Linked DNA regions of Homo sapiens: region 2 is linked to region 1. Evidence: fine-mapped expression QTL. A gene starts in region 1. The other region holds a variant in brackets. All regions are shown on one strand. Distances are from middle to middle. Region 1 holds the start of NOL8 (nucleolar protein 8). Region 2 overlaps IARS1 (isoleucyl-tRNA synthetase 1).

The links. PIP is the estimated chance that this variant, and not a neighbour inherited with it, causes the effect.
Region 2: its variant is the best candidate, but not a certain one, in a credible set for the expression of NOL8 in blood mononuclear cells (TOPMed, PIP 0.89).

The regions. Positions count from the first base shown.
Region 1 is chr9:92,323,526-92,326,393 of GRCh38, reverse strand. It overlaps NOL8 (nucleolar protein 8), which reads left to right and starts at 1,044. Exons shown (of 17, transcript NM_017948.6): 1 at 1,044-1,088; 2 at 2,185-2,371. The coding sequence starts at 2,233. CENPP (centromere protein P) reads right to left here and starts at 441. Exons shown (of 8, transcript NM_001012267.3): 1 at 289-441. The coding sequence starts at 395. RefSeq lists enhancers at 836-945, 976-1,095, 874-1,762.
Region 2 is chr9:92,267,874-92,270,791 of GRCh38, reverse strand. IARS1 (isoleucyl-tRNA synthetase 1) reads left to right here. Exons shown (of 34, transcript NM_002161.6): 13 at 809-907; 14 at 2,492-2,618. Among named protein-coding and RNA genes, the nearest start is that of MIR3651, 23 kb to the left of the region's middle. The variant AC/C (reference allele first, on the strand shown) is at 1,514.

The sequences.
Region 1 (2,868 bases):
ATACTGGAGGCGGAATTATCTAGCTAGGGATATAGTCAAGACTTCCTCCTTGTCAGTCATCCACACAGACGACTGCGATTAAACGAGTTAATACCCTGCAATGCGTTTACAGCTGGGCGCCGTACGCGCTGCTCCCAACTCTAGGCCATCGTCATGACAGGATCAATGCCAGTTCATGCCCACTTTCTAGGGCTGGGAGTAGGAGACCGAGGATGTCTGTGGAGATTCACCCGCCTGGCCCGGGAACCCTGGCCAGCGGGCCCTGGGGGACTTGGGGTGGTCACGTACTGGACTCGGGACTTCTCTTCCCAGGGCGCCGGTGGGTCCTCACACGCTCGCCGCAGGGCCGCGATCTCAGCTTGCAAGGCGCGCACCTCTGCCAGCTCTGCGTCCATGGCGCGTTGCTGACCGCAGCCGGGCCGGCAGCGCAGCTGTCACTCCGACCTGCGCGCTTCACCCGCGCTTCAAGCCTCGCGCGCGCTCCCGGCGCGGACCATCCCAGAGCTCACGCGGAGGGGAGGCGGGAGAGCTCCGCGTGACCCCAGCGGCCCTGCACGTCCAACTCCGCTCTCGCACGAGAGCCTGAGTCCTCCACTTCCCCGCACACGTTTCCCTGGCTGTCTAAGCAGTGGCTATACTTTCTCTGGAGAGCGCGTTCTTTGCTACTCCAAGCCCAAGCGCTCCGCTGCTCACCCTAGCCGGCAGCCTTGGAGCCGCCCGGCCGCGTGCCTCACTAAAGAGGCAGGGCTGGGATCACGTGGAGGGGAGCGCCTCTTTATTTTTTTCACCTACTTCCTCTCTTACGCCGACCTAGTCCAGGAATTGGTACACACAGCGATAGTGTTCAATAGAAACTAGGGGATTTTGGTTTAGGCTCTTTTGCAGTCGTTGAGGGGGAGGTGACGGAGGCGTCAGGGAAGGTGGGAGGACGGAAAAGGAAATTAAAAGCTCTTGGGAACTGAATTGTGGTAACGGAACCTTAGGAGGCTGGGTTGGAAATCGAGTAGGAAGGAAGAGAGGATGCTCCGTTGGGACACGTGACCAGAAGTTAGGGGCTGCAGCGGCGCTGGCTTTAGGTGAACGACGTGGTGAGGAGTGGGTTTCGGGCATGAGAAGTCACAGGGCCGTTTCCTAGTCTCTCTTCACTTCTTTGGGTCTTCTCAGAGAAAGAAGGCTGCCGTGGGTAGGCTGGGGGCGGAGACTATCGGGAAGAGGTAGGCCGAAGTTCTGCCCAGAATACACGCCATGTGGTGGACGCTGGTTGGGAGTCTCTTCTGGAAAGAGTCTGTCAGCTCTTGGGGAAGGGAAGGGCGAGAGCTGAGCGCCTGCCGGGTGCTAAACGAAATGAGAGATACTATGATGGGCCCTAGTACCTCTGGAAAAGTTTTCCTGAGTCCCCTGTGATACAGCAACCTTCATAGTATAGTGTTAAGAATTCCAAGTTCTGAAGGTAGACCTGCATTATAATCCTGGATTCACTAATTTTCGGTATGGCATTGAGGAAGTGACTTAACCTCTTCTGCTCTCCTGAAAAATGGGAAACATGCAAACTACTTTGTACAATGCAGGCACATAGCAAAAACACAAGTCTGTATTCGCTATATCCCTTGATCTTTGTGTCTGAACCCCACTTTGCAGCACTTTTATTGTGACATAATATTGTGCCATTTGTTTTATTCTTTTGTGACTATAAGGAGCTCCTAGCCTCTCTATTCACTTCTTTGGGTCTTCTAGGAGGAAGAAGGCTGGGGTGGGTAGGTTGGGGGTGGAGACAATTAGGAAGAGGTAGGCTAGCTCTTTTTATCTTTTAGTGCGTTACATCCTGTTTCTGTCAGACTTTGTTAAAGACAGTAAATGAATGTATGAGTGAGTCAAGGAAAAACATCTAAAAACATGAATACATAAAATTAAGAGGGATAGAGTGTAATATTATGGCCATTTGGAGGAAAAAAACTCTGTCTGTACCTGTGTCTATATGGGTATGGGGTTGCTGTTCCAAAGTGCATTCATGAAAGATGTGGATGTAGGGCTTGGGCAAAACCTCGAAGACTAAAATTTGGAAGTAATACAATAGGAAGTGAAATACAGATCCAGGAGACGGATTTGATACAGAAGGTTCAGAGGAAGTAGTTGTTTTGTTAGATTTTAGAAGAACTAAGGGAAAGAACTCTTCTCTGTATACAGAAAATTACTTTTCCCACTGAAACACACCCAAGTATATGCCCAGCCTTCATGAAAGTGAACAGAGAAACGAAGCGCCTTTATGTGGGTGGCCTTAGCCAGGACATTTCTGAGGCAGACCTACAAAATCAGTTCAGCAGATTTGGAGAAGTTTCGGATGTGGAGATCATCACACGGAAAGATGACCAAGGTAATTTATGGTCCTTCACTGGGCAGTTATAGGCAGACATAACTCAGGTTAAGTGCTAGAAAATAAAACAACCCCAAGATAAATGTTAGCTCTGAACACCAAAAGTTTTAAGTGATGTTGTGGAGGTATAATGTGTGATGTGGAACTTGACCAGAATTTGTTTCTGAAATAAGAAAAAATTCCAAATTCTAAAACATCTGATTTCAGAAACATATTAACTTCCAGTTTTGAGAACTAGAATTTTCTAACATGGATTAAGTGTCCCGTTAAGTAGACTATCACTAGCATACAATCAAAATGTTTCCTTATCTGACTACTGGACATTTTCTTCTTTTTTTTTTTGGAATATTTTGATAATTATGCTTATTTTTATAGCCAATAAAAAACAAGGTTTATCTTTGAAATAATAAGTTTTCAAGAGCTATTTTTTTTTTTAATTTAGAAACAACCGTTTTTACATTGCTCTCTGGATAAGAATTTAAATAAATTGTTTTGTT
Region 2 (2,918 bases), 56 kb after region 1:
TAGGGTCTCACTCTGACGCCCAGGCTGGAATGCAGTGGTGCAATCACAGCTCACTGCACCCTCCACCTCCCCGGCTTAAGCAATCCTCCCACCTCAGCTTCTGGAGTAGCTGGAACTATGTAGGTGGTGCCATCACACCCGGCTGATTTTTGCATTTCTTATAGAAATGAGGTTTCGCCATGTTGTCCAGGCTGGTCTCAAACTACTGGGCTCAAATAATCCTCCCACCTTGTCCTCCCAAAGTGCTGAGATTACAGGCATGAGCCACAGCGCCTGGTCTAGGAGAGTTTTATGAATGGCTAAAAATGTTGCTTTCCTAAGGAACTGTGAGAGAAAAATAGACCTGTACAAATCTGTTTTGTATTGTGGCCACATTTTTTTTAGGATGAGAAGCATCTCTAAAATTTTGTAATAGAGTTTATTGAAAAATTTAATATGATTTTAACCTTTAATATAAGACCATGCTGTAAAAGTATGGGTGAAAATGAAATGTTCAGTTGCATCGTGTTTGGTTTCCACATTGCCTCTTCTGTGTTGAAGTTGAAGTTGACATTGTTTCTTAGATAATTGTCACTAGCAGAACTATTTTTTTCTACTCTTGTTCTTGTATTAGTTTTTGCCTTTCTTACTATTGTGGAAAGATATGACCAATTTTGAAGTCTTAGATGTTTTTATCTATAATAAAAATGAATATTAGCAGAAGGCCAAGTAAGTGATGATGCTGTCAATAAGACATGAAAAGTCAGTCTTACCGTAGTGCCTACTAGTCTCAGCCTGAGCAGCTATGTGTGTGTTTCTGCTTCCCCAGATCAGACACTCCTCTAATTTACAAAGCAGTGCCCAGCTGGTTTGTGCGAGTGGAGAACATGGTGGACCAGCTCCTAAGGAACAATGACCTGTGCTACTGGTGAGCAGTAAGATGTGTTTCTTCATAGTGTCTTTTGTCATGTGGTTAGTAAGTATGGTTTACACTTCCCCCAAGTTATAATTTTAATAACCCATCTTTTATTGGGTATTGTAATAGCTATCTTTTCTTCTGTGTGTTTAGGAGCACAAAATAATTCAAATAATGTTACAGAACAGAAGTAACATCCTTCTTGTGATAAAGTATGTAAGGGAGTATTTTTCTTTTTAAACTCATTGGAAATGATAAACCACCATTTATTCGATTTAGGGAATGAAATGACCTTGGAAAAATATGGCTGTACTGCCAGAGTTTGCTAGCCTTCAATAATAGTCATTTTCAGAGTAAACATTATTTTCAGATATACCTGCAAAAGCCATTTGTACTTACTCTTGTTGGTCCTGCAGTGGATGATGTACCCTGTGCTTGGCTGTATGGATAAGCTCCAAGCACAGAAGCCTTTGCTTTCCATAGCTGATATGTGTCCTGCAGGTGATAGCCCAAGAAGTATCATTTCAGCCTCTGGGTACAAAATGAAACAAGGCTTGAACCTGTGTATTTCAGATGAATGTTTTTCACTACAAGTTTGAAAAGTAATCACCACTCTTA[AC/C]TTCTCACAAGGACCCAACTAGACTCTAGAAAACTGTATCTGAGTTTAGGAGAATGGGGAGAATCTCAGGGCAGCAAAGGAAATAGTTATAAACTGTAGCTTTCTAATATTTCTTAGCAGAGTGGTCCTGATTTCTCAAAAGACAGCTTTTCATTTTTAGAGCTAGTAAGCTAATTAGTTCCCCTAATGTGTAAGATACTAGATATAGAATATTAGTAAGATAGCCTCGAGGGGGTGCAGGCATATAAACTGATCTTTGAAGTACAGGGCAGTAACTGCAGTGCCCAAGAGAAGAAGGGGAGGTCTGGTAGCCTACCCTGACTCAGCCTTGTGCTTGAAAAGGATTTCTGCAAAGCTGAACCTCAAGGAATAAAGAGTACTGGGAGTGGGAGGGATGCAAGAGGATGGATGCAGAAGGGAGGGAAGCTGCGTGTCAGAGGGCAGGCAGGCTGCGTGTCAGAGGGCAGGCATGGGCAAAGCCAGTTAAGTGAGAAGGATTCTAGGGAACTTGCCTCATTGCCAGAGCCTGAAATTCAAGACCAAGGATGACCAGAGAGGTGACTATAGAGAGGGCTGCTAGAGCAGCTACCAATCCCCTGGCCTGTTGGCCTTTGCTTAATGAGTTCAGAAAAACTGCTATGGTGAGGATAATGTGAAGACTAGAGTTGTATGGGATGAGGCTGGCTAAAGCTAAGGTGACTGGTTAGAGGTATGTGGCAGCTGTACTCCAGTTGAAGAGGAGGACATGGGAGGCCTGTGTGCTGTGGGGTAATCTATTGGATGTAGGTCATTGATGGCAGCACAAACTGTTGTGTGTGCTATGCTGTCCATTTAGAAGACATTCTCTTTGCAGTGAGCGCCACGTTTCCAGAGTGTTTGGTCCACAAAGCGTTATACAAAGGCTCCTGTGGGTATTATTTACATGTTGAATTTTTCCATATTTTTATGTGATTGGTTATGTGATCTGTTTATTGCAGGGTCCCAGAGTTGGTACGAGAAAAACGATTTGGAAATTGGCTGAAAGATGCACGTGACTGGACAATTTCCAGAAACAGATACTGGGGCACCCCCATCCCACTGTGGGTCAGCGATGACTTTGAGGAGGTGAGGCATGGCAGTATTTCCTTGTGTTGATTTTTGCTAAAGCATTTTGTTCATGAAATCTGAATGTGGTTTAAAAGAATAGGGTGTTTTTTTCTTTGCCCCTTTCTTATTTCATCTTTTTTCCTCTTTATTCCTTTCTAGAATCATGACATAAGATAATCTGTTTCTGGGGTTTTTAACTTTTTTTCCTTGAATTAAATACAATTTATAAAACTTTCCTCTGTAAAAATAAAAGGATACAGTTTTCTCAGGGAAATACACACTTTAAATGTTTTTTTTGTGTGTTTCCCCGATGTCTTT